Homo sapiens: one gene and its partners. The protein of the gene in region 2 purifies or fractionates together with the protein of the main gene of each other region. This does not show direct contact. Each region holds a gene or a part of one and is shown on either strand. Other genes may lie near its edges.

Evidence for each region. Proteins that work in one complex are often made in the same cells at the same time.
Region 1: the proteins of ABCF2 (region 2) and SLC2A12 purify together in Homo sapiens (affinity purification with mass spectrometry, with the first as the bait; one large-scale study listed by BioGRID). This does not show direct contact.
Region 3: the proteins of ABCF2 (region 2) and MTHFD1 fractionate together in Homo sapiens (co-fractionation; one large-scale study listed by BioGRID). This does not show direct contact.
Region 4: the proteins of ABCF2 (region 2) and EIF5B fractionate together in Homo sapiens (co-fractionation; one large-scale study listed by BioGRID). This does not show direct contact.

What each region holds. Positions count from the first base shown.
Region 1 is NC_000006.12:134,028,221-134,033,184, forward strand, and holds part of SLC2A12 (solute carrier family 2, facilitated glucose transporter member 12), read right to left. Parts: intron 1,502-4,964; coding exon 161-1,501; intron 1-160. UniProt on the Homo sapiens protein: Insulin-independent facilitative glucose transporter.
Region 2 is NC_000007.14:151,220,080-151,225,043, forward strand, and holds part of ABCF2 (ATP-binding cassette sub-family F member 2), read right to left. Parts: intron 4,910-4,964; coding exon 4,697-4,909; intron 4,036-4,696; coding exon 3,853-4,035; intron 3,771-3,852; coding exon 3,599-3,770; intron 2,538-3,598; coding exon 2,442-2,537; intron 1,602-2,441; coding exon 1,499-1,601; intron 1-1,498. Other genes in the region: ABCF2-H2BK1 (ABCF2-H2B protein), read right to left, coding at 1,499-1,601, 2,442-2,537, 3,599-3,770, 3,853-4,035, 4,697-4,909.
Region 3 is NC_000014.9:64,418,293-64,423,256, forward strand, and holds part of MTHFD1 (C-1-tetrahydrofolate synthase, cytoplasmic), read left to right. Parts: intron 1-1,521; coding exon 1,522-1,633; intron 1,634-4,964. UniProt on the Homo sapiens protein: Trifunctional enzyme that catalyzes the interconversion of three forms of one-carbon-substituted tetrahydrofolate: (6R)-5,10-methylene-5,6,7,8-tetrahydrofolate, 5,10-methenyltetrahydrofolate and (6S)-10-formyltetrahydrofolate.
Region 4 is NC_000002.12:99,388,329-99,393,292, reverse strand, and holds part of EIF5B (eukaryotic translation initiation factor 5B), read right to left. Parts: intron 3,576-4,964; coding exon 3,444-3,575; intron 3,075-3,443; coding exon 2,892-3,074; intron 2,750-2,891; coding exon 2,588-2,749; intron 327-2,587; coding exon 195-326; intron 1-194. UniProt on the Homo sapiens protein: Plays a role in translation initiation.

The sequences.
Region 1 (4,964 bases), on a different chromosome or scaffold from region 2:
CAGAAGCAGATATAAGCCAAGCATACTTTCTGCATTAGAAGGAACATCAGATGACCAATGTTATCCTTGTCTTCCTTCTAGCACTTATGTTCATGAGGTACTATAGCAGTAGGATGCTCTGACTGGTCAAAAGCAATACATTAAAGAATAAAGTACTTACTTGGTCCTAGACCAATTGAAAAAGCAGCAACATAAACAAGCAAGCTGGCTAAGGACAGCCATTTCAAAAAAGCTGGGACGTCCCCAGGGTCTGTGACTATCTGGTATTCAGTGTGGCTTAATCCAGCATTTAGCAAGGATGCTGAGGTCGTCTCCCCTCTCTTATCCACATCATTTCTCAGGGGCATGAGTGAGCTTCTGCTATGGGAAGAAATCCCTTTGAAGTGGTCTCTGAGAGTATTGTTGTTGGTTGACAGGTTTCCTGGTCCATAAATCACAGACTCATCCAAGGACTGGTTGATAGAATTGTGGCTTCTGCAGATATGGGTGAAGTTCATGTGGATGTTGAGATTTACGATGCCCATGGTCACCAACGAAGCTGCCATCACAGAGGAGCCAATGCAGAGGAATGTTTTGCTGCCGACATGGTCTACAAGAAGAGTGGCAGGGATGGTGCTAATGACCTTGACGACTCCAACCCCAGTGGAGGCGAGGCTAGCTGCCTCATTGCTTTGAAATCCAACTGACTTCAAAACAGTTGATGCATAGAACAATATGTTTGGTTGGCCAGTGATTTGTACAAAAAATACTAGTGTTAGTCCTATCATTATTCGGGTCCGCATGTTGTCTTTTGAACGAAACAGATCCCAAAAACTGTACTGATATTCATCTTTCAGGGAGGATTTGATCACAGTGAGTTCCTCAGTTGTATCTGAGAGTGCTCTTAACCTTCCAAGAACCTTGCTAGCAGCTCCCTCTTGTCCTTTCATCACCAGAAACCGAGGGCTTGGAGGAAGAAAATACATTGCAATTGCTTGCAAAACTCCCAAGGGAATCACAAGACCAAACATGTACTTCCAGCCATGGAAAACATTGGCAAATGCGTAATTTGAAATATAGGCAGAAAGAATGCCGATGACAATCATCAGCTCATTCAGTGACACAAGAAGGCCTCTTCTGTGTTGAGGAGCAATCTCTGCGATGTAAACACAAGTGGCAATGGAAGAGAGGGAGATGGAGACCCCTATGGCAATGCGTCCCACTATAAGAACCGTGTAGGATAAACTGAGGATCAAGACTAAGCTTCCGAGTCCAAGCAGGCAGGATGACAAGATGATTGCTGTCCTTCTTCCATATCTGTCTATCAGGACCCCTCCGGTGAGTGAGGCAAGGAGGGCTCCAATGACGAGGGAGCTCACAACCATTTCCTGCTCATGGCAGCTCAGGGCTAATAAGGTTTTGATCTGAAGAAGAGCCCCAGAGATGATCCCAAGTTCATAACCCACCAGGAGGCCACTGACAGCAGCAGTGACAGATGACAGGAAGGTAAACATGCCGCAGCCTGCAAGCAGAGAGAAGAGACAGGGAGGTCAGTTCTCAGTTGAGATTTTAAACATTTTGTATTTGAGCGGAGATTTAACCTTGTAGAAGTCTTTCATAGCACTGGGTTTAAACGAACACACAATTATGATAAAATAATACACTAACCAAAAAATGATTTGATATAGAAGGAGAAATCATTTTTCTTTCTTTTTTGGGAGGATAGGCATGGAGACATGTAGGAAGTCCAGTTTCCTTCTATTTATGATGTTGATGTTTTTGGTTTAGATCAGACAGTGATGTTGAGATAAGCAGATGACACATGATGAAGACTGAACAAACAAGAACATCATTTGGTTCATGACTTGGCAGTGGATCAGAAATTCAAAGAGCCTGACTCTTTGGTCCCATTCCAGTTCTCTAAAGGCAAATCTTTGAGGGCAGGAGAGAGAGGATAGGAGCCTCTAGAAGTGCTACAGCCTCCTTGCTGGATAGCCTGGGTCAAAATGAAACACAGCCTCCAGGAAACTTGCCCTCTTATCTCCTGGGCCACAGTCGTGCTGCAAATGGCCTCTGCTGAACACATGAGGGTGTTGGGGCAGAGGGTGGAGGTGGGAGTGGGCAGTGTGTGAATGCCTTAACAAAGTCAAGGTTTTGCTAAACAGAAGGAAGGAAGAAATGTATGTAGTGTAAGGAACCAGCAATATCCCTTACTCATTCTGAGTAAGGAGAAAGGGGGATGGAACACAGGCAGAACAAGGAGAATTTACCTTTATATTGTTCTTTCGTTAATGTTCAAATCCAAGGAAAAATGTCAAAAAGTTAGTAACTATTAATTTTTGGTGGTAGGAACACAGATGTTTGTTATATGTTTGCAACTTGTCAAAATAGAAATAAAACAAAACAAAAAAGCAACAGAGGGAAGAGTATTTCAGGCCCAGGAGAAAGTAATTTCCAAGGCCTTAGGACAGGAAAGTTCTCATTATGTTTTAGGAACTGTCAGATGGCCAACATATAACATGTGGGGCACATTGTGAGCCTGGAGCGGTAGGACGGAAAGGGCTTAAAATGAATTTGGATAAGTACAGAGGGGGCACTTCAAGTAGGGCCTTGTCGGTCACAGTGATGACTTTTCATTGTGTTCCAAGTATAATGGAGCCAACACCCACTGAGAGGTGTAGAGGGCATTGACGCTATAGGTTTCTTATTTATAAAGTCCACCTTCACTGCTATGTAGAGATTAGTTCTTCAAAATGCAAGACTGGCAAGACTGGTAGCAGGGAGGAGTTTGTTGCCTTGGTTTGGACAAGAGATAATGGTAGCTTAGACTTGGGTGTTAAGAGTGGAACTGGAGATAAGTAGGCAGATTCAAGACTTATTTTGGAGCTAAAAACCACTACACTTGTTCAGGGCTGGATGTGGTGGCTCACGCCTGTAATCCCAGCACTTTGGGAGGCTGAGGTGGGTGGATCTCCTGAGGTCAGGTGTTCAAGACCAGCCTGGCCAACATGGCAAAACCCCATCACTATTAAAAGTACAAAAATAGCTGGGCATGATGGTTCATGCCTTGTAGTCCCAGCTACTCAGGAGGCTGAGGCAGGAGAATCACTTGAACCCAGGAGGCAGAGGTTGCAGTGAGCTGAGATCATGCCACTGCACTCCACCCCGGGCAACAGAGCAAGACTCCATCTCACAAAAAAACAAAAAACAAAAAACAAACAACAAACAAAAAAAACATTACACTTGTTCAAGAATTGGAGATGGGGGATAAAAAATGGGTCAGAACCCAGGATGGCTCTGTGGCTTGAGCAGGTGGGTGGGTGATTTTACAATATTTGATATACTCAATACAGTACTATATGGGGCCAACACCCATTGAGAGATGTAGAGGGCATTGTACTATATACTGTGTAGCGCAACATACCAACATAGGGAAGATTAGGAATAGAACTGGTTGTGAGTGGTGATAAGAGGAGGGGCAAAAATCAAAAGTTTCATTTTGGACTTAGTAAAATGGTTTATTTATTTTATCTGTAAGACATTCAGGTAAAAATGTTAAGTAGGGGATTGGGTATACAGATTTGGAGCTTAAAGATAGGTCAAGCCTGGACATATGTATTTGGAAGCCAGCAGCACACATTTGGTATTTAAAGCCACAGGAATGGGTGAGATCACTTAGGAAGATAAAATAGGGGAAAAGGAAAAGCATGATCAAGACTGGGACCTAGGCAATGCCAATATTTAGAAGACTAGTGCCAGCAAAGGAGATGGAGAAGAATCAGAACTGAGGTGTAAGTCAAATGTTAGAAATGTGATTACACACACGGTTTTCATAGGCTGAGCTAAGGCTGCCTTTTCGGGGTTGGGGGAGGGTATAGTTAAAAATGCTATTCAGCTCTAGTGAAATAAGCAGGTCAAATAAAGGTGATCTAAAGCTCTACCACAAATACTCAAGGTATTTTCCATCTCCAGGATCCTAGTAGGCTATGGGAATTGGCAGCCCCAAAAATAAGGGGAAAAAAGCACTGAATATTTAGATGGAGGAGCAAATAAAGGTGCAATAATCCACAAGAAATAAAGCAAATTTATGAGCATTTTGAACAAAACCCAGTAAACTGAAATTAAATCAGCAATTTATCTAGCTAATCAGAAAACAAAATATTTGGCACTGTTACATGGCAGGCATTTACCTGGGTACAGGGAGAAATATATATATATATATATATTTATATATATATATATATATATAAATATATATATATATATTTTTATATATATATATATATATTTGTTCTGTTTCACTGCTATATATATATAGCATATATACCAACATGGAGTTATATGCTACAGAATTTAGCTGTGGTCTCAGTTGCCTGAATTTTAATATCTTCCCTATTATATGCTTTAAGGGACACTGCCCCAAACTAGCTTTCCCACTTCCTTTACTACTGATACTTAGGACTACTGTTTGATCCTCAGCCTGTCCATTCGGGGTTTTGAATTCTAATTCACTGTATAAGGCTAGTCCTTAATGCTTCTGAGATTGTGGCTCTGATACCACATTTGTTCTGTTTCACTGCTATATATATATATTATATATATATAATTTATATCTATATATATAAATTATATATTATTTATATATAAATATATATTTATATAATATATTACATATATTATATATATAAATAACTTAATTTTTGGTGGTAGGAACACAGATGTTTGTTATATGTTTGCAACTTGTCAAAATAGAAACAAAACAAAACAAAAAAGCAACAGAGGGAAGAGTATTTCAGGCCCAGGAGAAAGTAATTTCCAAGGCCTTAGGACAGGAAAGTTCTCATTATGTTTTAGGAACTGTCAGATGGCCAGCATATAACATGTGGGGCACATTGTGAGCCTGGAGAGGTAGGACGGAAAGGGCTTAAAGTGAATTTGGGTAAGTACAGAGGGGGCACTTCAAGTAGGGCCTTGTCGGTCACAGT
Region 2 (4,964 bases):
CAGAGACAGACCCCATCTCGAGAAAAAAGAGGCCGGGTGCGGTGGCTCACGCCTGTAATCCCAGCACTTTGGGAGGCCGAGGCAGGCGGATCATGAGGTCAAGAGAGGGAGACCATCCTGGCCAATATGGTGAACCCCATCTCTACTAAAAATACAAAAATTAGCTGGGTGTGGTGGCATGCGCCTGTAGTCCCAGCTACTCAGGAAGCCGAGGCAGGAGAGTCCCTTGAACCTGGGAGGTGGAGGTTGCAGTGAGCCCAGATCGCGCCACTGCACTCCAGCCTGGCGACGGAGCAAGACTCCAGCTCAAAAAAAAAAAAAAAAAAAAGCTGCAATTGTATAAAAAGAAAAAGATTACGTATACATGACATTTTCTACAAATGTGTGCAAGTATACATGAAGTTTCTGGAAGGCTATATTATAAACTAATACTCCTATGACTATGAATGAAGAGGACATCAATCGTTAGTTTCTTACATGCTTTTTGAAATATAAAATGAAAAGGCAAGGCACAACAGTGGGCTATTGAGATCCTGACCCCCATTCTCCTGTGGTCATGGGAGGTGGGGTAAATGTGTAGACTCCAGTGAAGCAGAATTAAGAAGGCATTCAAGAAGGCAGAGGGAGGCCTCGTGTGGTGGCTCATGCCTGTTATCCCAGCACTTTGGGAGGCTGAGGAGGGCAGATCACCTGAAGTCAAGAGTTCAAGACCAGCCTGGCCAACATGGCAAAATCCCGTCTCTACTAAAAATACAAAAACTAGCCAGACATGGCAGTGCATGCCTGTAGTCCCAGCTACTCAGAAGGCTGAGGTACAAGAATCGCTTGAATTCAGGAAGTAGAGGTTGCAGTGAGCTGAGATCATGCCAGCCTGGGTGACGGAATGAGATTCTGTTTCCAGAAAAAAAGAGGCAAGGCAGATGAGAGCAGGGCCTGCCTGGTCACCGTGAAAAGTCAACTTCTTTGCCACAAGGCAAACATACACCTTGTGTGCACAGGCTGCCAATCCATGGCCTATGGCCTGAAAGCAATGACTTTGGGATTAAAATAAAACAGGTGGTAGGACTCCTTGTCCATATCTTTTTATAGCAATAGGTAGAAAGGAGCTAATAGATAGGTCTGCTTTTTTTTTTTTTTTGAGATGGAGTCTTGCTCTGTCACCCAGGCTGGAGTGCAGTGGTGTGATCTCAGCTCACTGCAACCTCCGCCTCCAGGGTTCAAGTGATTCTCCTGCCTCAGCTTCCCAAGTAGCTGGGACTACAGGCACCTGCCACCACGCCTGGCTAATTTTTTTGTATTTTTAGTAGAGACAGGGTTTCACCATATTGGCCAGGCTGGTCTCAAACTCCTGACCTCAAGTGACCCACCCACCTCGGCCTCCCAAAGTGCTGGGATTACAGGCATGAGCCACCACACCAGCCTTTTTTTTTTTTTTTAAAGAGAATTTCAGAGAATTGGTATGCACAGAGATTACCAGAAGAAGCCGAGGCCCACTCACCGTATAATACTTCAGTTTCTTGTTGTGCATGTGAATGATATTGGTACAGACACCATTCAGAAAATCCTGGGAATGGGAGACGAGGACCAAGATGCGCTTAAAACTGTAAAGCCAAAGAACCAATTAGTGAAGAGCTCAACCATGGGAGCTAGCTGACAACAGGTGAACTGAAAGTCAGGCCCATCCTCATCCCTAAGCACCTTTTAGATGTGTTGTCCAATTCCTGGCTGTTAGCAAGCACCTAAGCCACGACTCGACAATCTAACTGTAAGGGTATTTGGACGCCTTTCAGTGTGGCGAGACAGCCTGAGTTTCCTCAATCTTCTGTTCTAATTTTCAACAGAATGGGATGGAGACGGTAGTAACAGTGATAGTAACCAGAAGTGTGTATGTACACAAATACACCCACGAATGTATCCAAAACTGTGGGTGGGAAGAACTGGTACAGACACAATAAAAAACAAAATGCTTTACTTTTTGAAAGAAGGTACTAAGTCATCGTACCACTAAAAGCCTTCTTTTAAAATTGGTACAATATTCCAGCTTATTCAGTTCTTTAGCTGTAGGACCATGACCATATTGGCTATATTTTCCTTTGTCACTGCATCATGATCTTAGATGGAAGACCTCTTTTTAGCTTTATACAATTAAGAAAAAAAATATATCTTTAATTAAGATCTTGAATTTGAAATATGGACAAAACCAACAAGGATTTTTTTTAAAAAAAAAAGCTCATAAATTTCAAACTAAAGAAAAACAATCAAAATAAAAGGCCAGCCTTCAACAGCCCTAAAGGTGCTCACTGCTTGTCCAAGAAAGTGAACTCTGTCCTTCCTTCAGTTCCTTTCTCACCGCTCTAACATCAGTGCAGTTTCTGGGCATCCATTTTCTAGATTCCCCCTTTGGGACCTGCCCGCTCACATCCCCCATTCCACCCTCTTACGTTTTTAGTTCTTCTTCCAACCACACGCAAGCATCTAGGTCCAGGTGGTTGGTAGGCTCATCCAGGAGCAGCATGAAGGGCCGAATAAAGAGGGCTCTGAAGGACGGTAAAGGAGACAGAAGCACCTCAGAATTATAATGGATGTGACACAGGACGGGACAAACTTGCCTGCTACATGCAATTCTGAGTAGGCTCCTGGCTTGAGTCTTGAAATCAATTTTAGGCTCTATACCTCAGAGGGAAAAGGAGAAGCAGGACAGAAACAAGAGTCGAAGAGAAGAGATTGAAGAGTAGAATACGGGGCTCAGAAGCATATAAGGACAGTTCGAGGCAAGGCTGTAGAAGTCTTTATGAGTTTATGAGCCTTGTGCACTGAAGTTGGAGACTACGGAGAAGACAAAAAAATACAGAGGAAATAAACTGCTAAAACAAATTAGACCTATCTGAAGGTCTGAAGATAGACCTATCTTGTGGGGTGGCCAGAGTCTAGCGAGGGATAGACTCTAAAGCTCTGGTTCCCAAACCAGAAATCTGTGTTTTTAAAAGCTCCTTGGGTGAACCGGAGGCAGCTAATCCTTGCTAGCATGTGGAACCACTGTGCTTATACTCTAAGGCACATGCAGGCAACTTTCTAGAGAAGTATATCAAGTCTTATAAATTCCCTTCACAGAGAATGATGGGGCAAGGAATTACCTGTTTAGTGACTCTGGGGGGATTATTGGGGGAATGCTGGTCTATGGAAACTCACTTTGAGTCCAGGCCACAAGAGAATAAGAACGACAGCTATCATAATAGCCGTCTAACATTTTATCTTTACAGCTGGAATTAGCAGGACTAGAGTACAAAAAGGGTGGAAAGGGAATCCTGGTGGGAGGACAGAAACAGACCTACTCCACCGTTTTACCTAGGACTACCCCTAGGATCTCTAAACTCTGTGCTGGGTGCTAAGAATCCAATAGAAAACTGAGTCACTCTACCACTTCAGCCAGGAAGCTCTCTCTCTAGCCCATACACAACAACCCCCTCCACACTGCAGATGTCCATGTCTCATTTGACACTTACCACTGACTCCTGTTCCAAACAGTTCCACTGGAGTGAACACTAAACACTGGAGAGATGGGGGAGTTATGGGGGTAGGGAAGGAGGGAGGGACTCACCTGGCAAGGGCAACCCTCATCCTCCAGCCCCCACTGAAGTCTTTTAGCTTCTTGCGCTGCATGGCAGGTGTGAAACCCAGTCCATGCAAGATCCGCGAGGCCCTCATCTCTGCCTTGTCGGCATCCAGCTCCTCCAGGCGCTCGTAGAGCTCCATGAGCTTCTCACACTCCGCTGTGGACAGTGTATGGCCATGAGGCTCCTGGGGGCCTTTCTGGGAGGACGCCCACCCCTATGCCCAGGTCTGGAGCCCTACCATCCTCATGAGCCAGCCGCTCTGCCTCTTTCTCCAGCATGGCCCGCTCTGTGTCGACTTCCATCACACAATGCAAGGGTGTCTTGTCACTAGGGGGCATCTCTCGAGTCAGATGGTAGATGTCGATGTGCTCAGGGATGGGCACTTCACGCTTCCCAATAGCAGAGAGCAGCATGGACTTTCCTGAGAGGGGAGAGCAGCAGACGCTTGGTACAGTGAACTCCCCTATCCCTCTTCACCACTAGTTCTTCCACCCCAGTCAAACTGGGACCTCATCCATTTTTTTTTTTTTGAGGACCTTTCTTCCCTTCATTCGTTCAAATCTTGCCAGCCCCCATTCTTGGGATTCCTTTCTAACTTTCCTCCAATTCTTGCCCCACCCCTTATCTGAAGCTTTTTTCACTTACCACAGCTTCACACGCCCCTGACCAACTTCTCCAGCACCTGCTGTAACTAATCATGTGGTACAGGGTGGACGCACCCTAATCTGAAAATCCAAAATGCTCCAAAATCCAAAACCTTTTAAGTGCTCACATGATGCTTAAAGGAAATGCTCACTGGAGAATTTCAGGTTTTTGGATTAGGGATGCTCAGCCGGTAAGTATAATGCAAATATTCCAAGATCCGAAACACTTCTGGTTCCAAGCATTTCAGATAAGGGATACTCAACCTGTACATAACACATACTGCTCTGCGTTGCTAGTTCCTTTCCCCTGGACATAATCTGGTCTCCCATCCCTATTCTAAATGCTTTGCTCTGAACACAGTTGATGCTAAATAAATGCTTGTGAGTGACAGATGAGCTAAGGAGAGATACCTCCCACCTCCCCTTCCAAGGCCTCACCAATTCCATTTAAACCAATGAGGCCATAACGACGGCCTGAGTTTAATTCCAGTTTGGTGTCACTGAGCAGCTCTTGACCATGAAAGGTAAGTGAGAGGTTGATGATGTGAACATCAGTACTGTTGGGGTGAGAGGCCAGGACGCCAGTGACAGCTCGAGCAGCAGCTTTCTTCATCTCAAAGTCCTCTAGCTCCTTGGTCAGCAAATCTACTTCTGCGGATAGAAAAGCAGTTTGGGAAGATGGCGTGAGACAGACTCGGCTCTCCAC
Region 3 (4,964 bases), on a different chromosome or scaffold from region 2:
ATTAAAAATTAGCCAGATGGGGTGGGCACATGCCTGTAGTCCCAGCTACTCGGGAGGTTGAGGCAAGAGGATTGCTTGAGCCCAGGAGGTCGAGGCTGCAGTAAGCTACGATCACACCACTGCACTCCAGCCTGGGCTACAGAGCAAGACCCTGTCTCAAAAAAAAAAAAAAATTAATTAATTAAAAAAAACATAAAATTAAAAGCATGCTGAAGTTTATACAGAGTTTGTTCTGTGTACTTTCTCTCTTCCTTTTTCTTTTTTCTTTATTTATTTTTTTTGAGATGGAGTTTCACTCTTGTTGCCCAGGCTGGAGTGCAATGGCGCAATCTCAGCTCACCACAACCTCTGCCTCCTGGGTTCAAGTGATTCTCCTGCCTCAGCCTCCTGAGTAGCTGGGATTACAGGCATGTGCCACCACGCCTGGCTAATTTTGTATTTTTAGTAGAGACAAGGTTTCTCCATGTTGGTCAGGCCGGTCTTGAACTCCTGACCTCAGGTGATCCACCTGCCTTGGCCTCCCAAAGTACTGGGATTACAGGCATGAGCCACCATGCCCGACCTTTGTCTTTTTTCTTTTGAGACAGGGTCTTGCTCTGTTATTTAGGCTAGAGTGCAGTGGCAGTCCATGAGAGCCCACTGCAGCTTTGAACTCCTGGGCTCGAGTGATCCTCCTGCATCAACCTTCTGAGTAGCTGGGACTACAGGCATGTGCCACCATGCCTGGCTAATTTTTAAGCTTTTTGTAGCGACAGGGGTCTCACTGTGTTGCCCAGGCTGGACTCAAACTCCTGGACTCAAGCGATCCTCCTGGTTCACCTTCCTAAAGTGCTGAGATTACAGGCGTGACCCAACATGCCTGGCCTCTCACCAAGTACTTTCTACCCTAATCTGCCTCGTGGTGGACAGGGATTAGCAGTACAGGCACTCAGATTGACCTCTGGCAGCCAGATCCCATGTGTGTAAAAGTGGTGGCCTCAGAGTGAAGGTGCTCCAGAGGCAGTCGTGGGCAGTAGTCTGCTAATAGCTATGGCAGCTTGTTCTAGATCCCTGCATCAGATTCCTGAGCCCAAGAATGCGCACACACACACACGTGCCTGTTGACAGTGCAGTCTCTTAAATGTGGGGAGAGAGCAGGAGAGAGGCCTAGTACTTTCTCTTTTAATCCTCCCAAAGTAGTGCTCTACATTCTGTAGGAGAAGGAGCAGTGTCTGGACATAACACGCAGGGCCCCAAGCCTGTTTGCCCCTCTGCCTTGCAGGTTGACACTGATTTCCCTATTGGGTAAAATGGCTGGTGAAAGGGAGCTCTTTGGCATGTGTAGAAATGAGCACGGCATGTGAAGGGCTGTCAGAAACAGTGTGTGGCTTACATTTGAGGCCTTAACCCAATATCTTATGAAATAGCTTATGACACTTAAGAATTTAATACAAAGCTCAGGGATATCCTTTTCATTTCTGGGTTTTTTTTTGGTGTGTATTTCATTATTTCATTTCTGATGTCCAAATCCCCTACCCCTAGGTAAATAAAGGTGACATCCTGGTGGTTGCAACTGGTCAGCCTGAAATGGTTAAAGGGGAGTGGATCAAACCTGGGGCAATAGTCATCGACTGTGGAATCAATTATGTCCCAGGTGAGTGTTGTTGGAGGAGTAAGGTGGCTGCTGGTATTGAGGATGGTATCTAGGTCATCAAAAGAAGCCTGAGAGAGAAGCTTGTCTCATTTTATGCTTGTAGTACTAAGGTTTAGGAGACTGACTAGCCCAAGGGTGCACAGAGTTAGTAGATAGAAGAGTTGCCACTTGCAGGCAGGTCTGCCTGGTGCCAGAGCCTTTGATTTTCATCATGTGCTGTACAGCTTCCAAGATGACTTTGTCCAGGGAGAAAGTGAGAGGGAGGGCAGGAGGGATATATCACTTTATCTTCATGTAGAGATCACCCTTTATTTTAGCAAAGTTGATGGATGGATTTAAAATACAGTATAATTATTGCAAAGTGCTATGAGAGTCCAGAAGAGGGACTCATTCTGCCAAGAGGAGGGCTTTACAAAGAAGATATTTGACCTGGGTTTTTTTCTAGGCTGAGAGGATAAATCTAGCCTTTTAATCATGTCCAAAACTGTACTCGGCATCCTCATCCCCAAGTTACCCCTTACTCCCGTCTTTTGGTTAGTATCACCATTCTTCCTTCCCGCAAGTCTGAAGCCTTTTAGTTTCCCTCCCAAGCATTCCCTATATTGGACCAGTCTCTAAATATTAGGAATTGTTTTCTCTCTCCTCTGTTCTGAGTGTCACCACTGAGTGTTACCTTCTCAGCTGATGGGCTGTGATAACTTCCTTGCAGGTGTCCCTCCCTCCAGCTGCTTCCCACTCAGATCTATCCCCGTGCTCTCGCCTTGCCACGTTCACCTTCTGGCATGGAACTCTGAGCCTCTTCCTTCTTACTTGCCAGACTCCTTAGCCTCACACTAATTTCAGTGACCTCTGCAGCCTGTGATCTCACTTGCGCATGGTGAATACCTGTCTTCAACTTGTAAAGTGGACCACTTTCCCTTCCCTGCGCATGCCTCGTTTGCCCTTTGTAGTTCCCTCACCTGCATTCTTAGTGGAGTGGGCTACTCTTTCAAACAGAAAACTTCACAGAACAATAGGGCAAAACTTGCGTACGTCCTCATAGATCCAAGAAAGGAACAATCTTTAACGGAGCAACTACTGTGTATCCAGCACAATGCCAGGCCTTGGGCTACACAACTGAATAAGGTTCAACTTCACCTTCACCTTCAGCTGCTTCCTCCCCATCTCCTCTCTGTCATGTCTGTTATTCCTTCCAAACCTTGTTTGATTTCCCCTTATCAAGGGATGATCTTTCCTTCTCTCCCTCCCTCCTCTCCCATAGAACATGTGTATTGTATCTTTTGTTGCATGTGTCTCATGTACGGCGTCCTGTGCTCTCCTGCCTAGATAGCTCCTCAAGGGCAGTGGTCACTGTGGCGCCACATCCAGCTTCCTGCCATCTGACCACTGGCACTCATATCTATTGAATTGTCGAAGGGAGTTATAGCTGGAAGTCTTTTTTCTCCCTTCCCATCTCAAGTTTCAGATGTAGACGCTGAGCTGCCAGGAACATTAGTCACTGTCAAGCCTTCACCGTTTTTAACCTCCCTCCCACTCTCCCTACCGTGCTTTTAAGACAGTAGCTCATAATTGATCACTCATTTTCTTGTAGTGTAATTATCTAACAGGCGATAAAGAAATTGCTCTCCTACAACTCCTCACTTTGAATACTTGCGATATGACATTCAAGCTCAGTCTTTTTATTTATTTATTTTTTTAATTTTTTTTTTTTTTCTTGAGACGGAGTCTCGCTCTGTTGCCCAGGCTGGAGTGCTGTGGCGCGATCTCGGCTCACTGCAAGCTCCGCCTTGCGGGTTCATGCCATTCTCCCGCCTCCGCCTCCCGAGTAGCTGGGACTACAGGCGCCCGCCACCACGCCCGGCTAATTTTTTTTGTATTTTTAGTAGAGACGGGGTTTCACCATGTTAGCCAGGATGGTCTCGATCTCCTGACCTCGTGATCCGCCCACCTTTGCCTCCCAAAGTGCTGGGATTACAGGCGTGAGCCACCGCACCCAGCAAGCTCAGTCTTTTTAAAACCTCGCATCTTCTGTATCATATTTCTGCTTTTGGCATTTTTTTTTTGGATTACATGTGAGAAATGGAGAAGAAAAACCTGAGTGGGGATCTTGAGTGTTGCAGATAGGTAGGAAATGTTGACTTAAACATGAAACTTGCCATCCTTTTCACATTGATTCCTTATGTAGACAATAAAATATGAATAAAATCAAAGCAGTATCTTCCCTTCTGGTCAACAGTGTTTTTACTGATCTTGGGCATATAGGCAAATTAATGCTGATACAGCTGGATGTTATTGTGTTCCCCAAAGGATGGCAGAATCACTCAGTTACAGACCAGCAAATGGGCTGCAGGACCTAAAGACTGATATTTGCAAATGTTCACTTTAGAAGCAAACTTTTCTACCACCGAGCTACTTCTTGGTTCATATTTTGATTATTTAAATAGTTTGCATGGTCCACTCAGGGATAACATTGTAAGTCACTTGCCAAATTAAGAATGAATCAAGGTGTGTATACCTTTTACAAAGAAGTAATATTTTTAAAGATTCAAGTGCAGGGCAGAAAGTATTGGCCAGAGAAACACATAAAAGTGCTCTTCCTGCTTGGCTTACTAAAGATAAATTGAGAAGGGCCAGATCAATAGTGTTTTATTTGGAAGGGTTAAAAAGTGGGAACAGATTCCCCACCCTAATGCAATCCAGTCTCAACCTATCCAGTGTAGCTGCTTCTGGACTGGCCTCTATTATTAGGGTCCCCAAATTAAATGTAGAAGAGTCAGGGCTCAGCTGGATCTTTAGTTGATTTTTGTACATGTGATTTCCCAAAGAAAGAGAAATTCTAGGGCTGGGGGTAGATAACCAAAAGGTTTGCTCATTACTGAGGTCATATGCTTAGGCTGAGTAGTGGTCACTTTTTCCACTGACCACATCATCCTATCCACGAAGCACTGCATGTTTAGCAGTGTCTCGTCAACCCTGACAGTATTTGGTTTAGGAGCAAAACTGAACTCACCAGTGCTGCGTTTAGTCATGTAGTCAAAGATATGTGTCTCTTACCTGTGGGAAAACGAAAATGACTAACATTAACACGTAGAAATAGATGCAGCGGGTATTTCAAGCTAACTACAGTGTGAAGACGATTGAAACTTGTACAGAGGGCAAACCTCTATCTATATTTCCTTGGCATTTTGAAATGACTCTAGGGGCTGTAAGAGGAAATGTTCTGCCAGTTTGCTGCTTTATAATCTTCTAGAAACTTGAAACCATCCCAATGAGTTGTGTTGACCAGCTCCTTTTACTCCATATAAAAAATATCTTACGTATCTGTGGTGGA
Region 4 (4,964 bases), on a different chromosome or scaffold from region 2:
TATAAAAATTATACCAATTTCTATGATTGTACAAACTGAAGTAATTCAAAAGCATCAAGTTTGCTAAGAGGCCAAGAAATGGCAGGCTTCACAAAGACAAAGCCAGTTTTGGTCACCATCCCTAGCATGTGCAATGCTGACACATGCCAGAACTCAAATAGCTTTTAAGGAAAAAAATTTTTAAATGAACTTACTTTAAGAACAGGGATTTCATCTTCTTTATAAGCCACAAGGAGGGGTAAACCAGCCAATGTTTTCTCCAGGTCTTTTCCAAGAATCTTTACCCCCTGAGCTGCTTCTACTTCTTTATGCTTTTCATACTGGTTCTACAGAGATAAAAACATTTGTTACCAAATGTACTTTAAAAGTGGTTAGCAGTAGAAGATGATATAAGAGAATCTCATCATGATATTAGAGAGAGGTTTCTTAAACGAGGCACAAAAAGCAATAATCACAAGACTGATAAATTTAACATTAAAATTAAATATTTCCATTTCTCAAAATACCACAGGAAAAAAAAAGTCACAAGAGTAGAAGATATTGCAAAACACACCAACTAACAAACCGGTATCCTGAATATATAAGCGCATATAAATCTGTAAGAAAGATAATGCAGAAGAAAAATGTACATCTCACGAAGGAGGAAATAAATGGCCAATAAACATTTTTAAATGACCAACCAGGTTAACAATTAGGCAAATGCACACTGAAACGGCAATGAGCTACACACTTAGCAGAATGGCAAAAAAAATTTAAAACCTAACATCCAAGAACTGATGAAGCTGTAAAACAATGAAACTAAAATACTGCAGTTGAGAATATAATTTGTTACACCCACTGTAGACAAGTGTGGCCTTCACTCCTAGGTATACATACCCTGGGAAACTGGCACAAACACATCAAGAGATGTTCACAGCAGCAGCATTATTAGTAACAACAAAAATCAAAAACTGGGCCGGGTGCGGTGGCTCACTTAGGGAGGCTGAGGTCAGGAGTTCGAGACTAGCCTGGCCAACACGGCAAAACCCCACCTCTACTAAAAATACAAAAATTAGCCGGGTGTGGTGGCGTGCACCTGTAATCCCAGCCTGGATGACAGACTGAGACTCCATCTCAAAATAAAATAAAATAAAATAAACATAAAAAACTGGAGATCACCTACATTTCCCATCAACAGAACAGATAGATATGTTGTGATATAGTCACACAATGGAATAGAAATCTTAAAATTATATACTTTTTTTTTTTCACTAAAGGAAGCCAGATATAGGCCAGGCATGGTGGCTCATGCCTATAATCCCAGCACTTTGGGGAGATCAAGGTGGGTGGATTGCTTGAGCCCAGGAGGTCAAGACCAGCCTGGGCAACATGACAAAGTCCCATCTGTAAACAAATTAGCCAGGTGTGGTGGTGCGTACCTATAGTCCCAACTATTCAGGAGGCTGAGGTGGGAGGATCACCTGAACCCCGGGGAGGTTGAGGCTGCAGTGAACTGTGACTGCACCACTGCACTCCAGCCTGGGTGACAGTGAGAGCCTATCACCAAAAAAAAAAAAAAAAAAAGAGCCAGCTATAAAAGTACACACTGAGAATAACTCCATTTCTACATAAAGTCTACAGACACTTCTAAGGGAAGTACTCTTAGACACAAAAACAAAGCAAAGCAAGGATATTTGTTACTGTCATAAAATGCAACCATGGTTAACTCTATGAAAGGTCAGGGGGTAGGAGGGGAAGGCAGGGGAGTTGATCAGGAAGAAGCACACAGGAAGCTTCTGGGTGCCAGCAGCGTTCTGATTCTCCATCTGGTTGCTTCCCAAAAATGTGTTAAACTTTTCTTCTATGTTGTGTGTACTTTTCAGGAGCAATGTTTTATTTCACAATTAAAAATGTTAAAAAACTACAGCTGACCCTTGAACAAAATGGGCTTGAACTGCATATGTCCACTTATACTCAGATTTTCTTCTGCCTCTGCCACCAAACACAGCAAGGCCTACCCCTCTCCTTCTTCCCTCTCAGCTTACTCAACATGAAGATGAGAATGAGGACCATTATGATGATCCACTTCCACTTAACAAATAGTAAATCTATTTTCCTTATGATTTTCTTAATCACGTTTTCTTTTCTCTAGCTTGTTTTACTGTAAGAATGCAGTATGTAATATATAAAACATACAAAACATGTTAGTCGACTGTGTATGTGATTGGTAAGGCTTCTGGTCAATGGTAGGCTATTAGGAGTTAAGTTTTTGGGGAGTCAAAAAATATATGTGGATTTTCAACTGGCCAGGGAGTCAGTGCCCCTAGCCCTCATGTTGTTCAAGAGTCAACCGTATTTAGCAGTGTAGAACCATAACAGTGTAGTTTAGAATCTGGCAAAGGCCCAGTCTGGTAAGCAGGTACTTTCACACATCTCTACTCTGACAGACAGGCCTTCCTGTATGATGACAACTAAAATAAAAGGGAGAGCGAGGGATGTATGTGTTCTGTATTAAGTCAAACAGCTTTCAAAGTGAGGAAACCATCTCAGCAGAACTTCTAAACACTGTACAAGTCCCCACGTGTCAATGCTTCCCACCTCAGCATACCTTCACTCGTAATTCCTTCATAGGAGGAGGTAACAGGAGGCCTCGAATCTGAGTTACAATGGGCCCTTCTACTCCAGGAACAATGATTGTATCTCCTTCCTTCAAACGCCCATTGATCAAGATGACATCTATAGTGGTGCCCATCCCCGGGAGAGCTTTAACCTAAAAGGCATTAATGCAAAGAGAAAGACATACATACAATGCACCATGTTCATTAAATCTAAAAGTAGTAAATATCCTCCACTCAAGGAACTTGCTATTTTTAAAAAAAAAAAAAACAATAAACTGAAAAGTTGATCATTACCTCCATCACCTGTGCTCTCAGCTCTTCACAGTGTGCAAGTCTCTTGCTCAACATGGTCTGAGTTAACTCTACAAGAAGGTAGATCAGACTTCCCATGCCATCACCAGTATGTGCAGAGGTAGGTACCAAAGACACAAAAGTGCGGGGATCTTTATTCTCATAAAACAAAGCAGCATTCAAACCCTAGGAGCAAAAATCATCCAAAATGCCAGGCTGTAAAGAAAACGTATCTGGAATAGGTGTGCCTCACTAGAAGCCGGATGAGCAAATGGCTCATCATTTTGAAACTCCTCATAAACACTAAAAATGATCATGTATATCCTATAAGCATTAACTGTATTATAGCAAAGTAGTTCTAAGTCAACTCAGTTTTCTAAATTAAAGTATTCAGACTGCAAAGAAAAAGGAGAAAAGGGAAGAAGAATTTAAAAAAAGTAATTGCTGTCAACAGAGGAAAAGAACCAGTATTAATGAAAATGCTGACTTCATTATAAAGATAATATAATACATATTCTGAGATAGGCTCTTCAGAAAGAAGGAAGGCCTTCTTACCTGCTGTGCAAATTCTACAATAATAGCCTTTGCTCGCTCCTCAAATTCATCTTTTGTATTCTTTTTCTGCTTCTTTAAAGTAGCAGCCACATCAGAGTCAGGACTCTTTTTCCAATCATATAACCTATCAATCTGAAAAAGTTTTTTCATGAGAAAGATCTCTAAAAAATTCAGAACATTCAAGAACTGTATTAATAGCTCCAGAAAATTCCTCATGTGTGTCTCATATATACAGAACAGTGTGACTTACTCATACACTTTATTGTACCAAAAGCTCCTTTCAGACTGCTTATCGGCACCTGCTCTTAAATTAGAAACTGCTGTGGTGCCATGCTGCCCCTGTCAGCCTCCATGAGTTCCTAAGTGGCTGCCATTTGTTTGCAAAAGATAACATCCTAGAATTATCCTAAGACTATTAATGTATATTGTTGGAATTCCGAAACAGTTTTTGTAACAAATCAATCAATCCCAGCAAGTACCATCACTATAAAATTATATACCAAAAAATTAAAAAATATATATTTTCTAAGGGAACAGCCTATTTTAATTATTTTATTGCTCAAATTAGGATTAAATCTGTTTTGTTAATGACAGAATCTATTTTCCCTCACTTTTCAACATGAGAGATAAATGAGCATAGAAGAAATGAAAAATACTTGCTAGCCAAACAAACAATCAAAAGCATAATCTGTCTGGGGACAGAGTCTAGGGTGACAAAATAAAGAATCAGACGAATCTGAATGCTACTAAGGAGACAAATCAGTAGGAAATGACGAAGATGTTAAAATTAGCATATGAGGTCCTTAGAATATTTATAAACATGCTCAACACCTTTAAAGGAAAAGCCTGAAGCTTGTAAAGCTAAATAATAAAAACATGTCTAACTAGTAATTAGAAATTAACACTTTTAAATGCTTATATTAGAAAAGAATATCAATAAAACCAAAAGCTAATTCTTTGAAATAATCCAATTCCTGCACATTCTTTCAGAAAACAGAGGAGGAAACACTTCTCAACTCGTCTTAGGAGGCCAACATTACTCTGATATGAAAACCAGATAAAAGACATTACAAGAAAACTACATACTCATATCACTCATGAACATAGACACAAAACAACAATGAAACATTACAAATCAAATCTAGCAATATATCAAAAGGATAACAAATGACAACCAACTAGGGTTTATTTTAATAATGTAAAGTTGGTTTAACATTCTAAAAATTCAACAGTAATTATGTTGTTAACAGAATGAAGGAGAAAATCCACATGAACATCTCTACATACGCAGGAAAAGAATTTGACACAATCAACAACCATTCATGATTAAAGAAATAAAAACATAAAGCACTTTAAACCACCTAGAATAGAAGGAAACTTCCTCAAACTTAATAAAGGGCATTGACAAAAAAACCAAAAAAACAAAAACCCTGCAGCTGACATCATACTTAAGGGTGAAAGACTGAGCACTTTCCCTTAATATCAGGAATAAGGAAAGGATGATGTCTACTGTCATTCCTT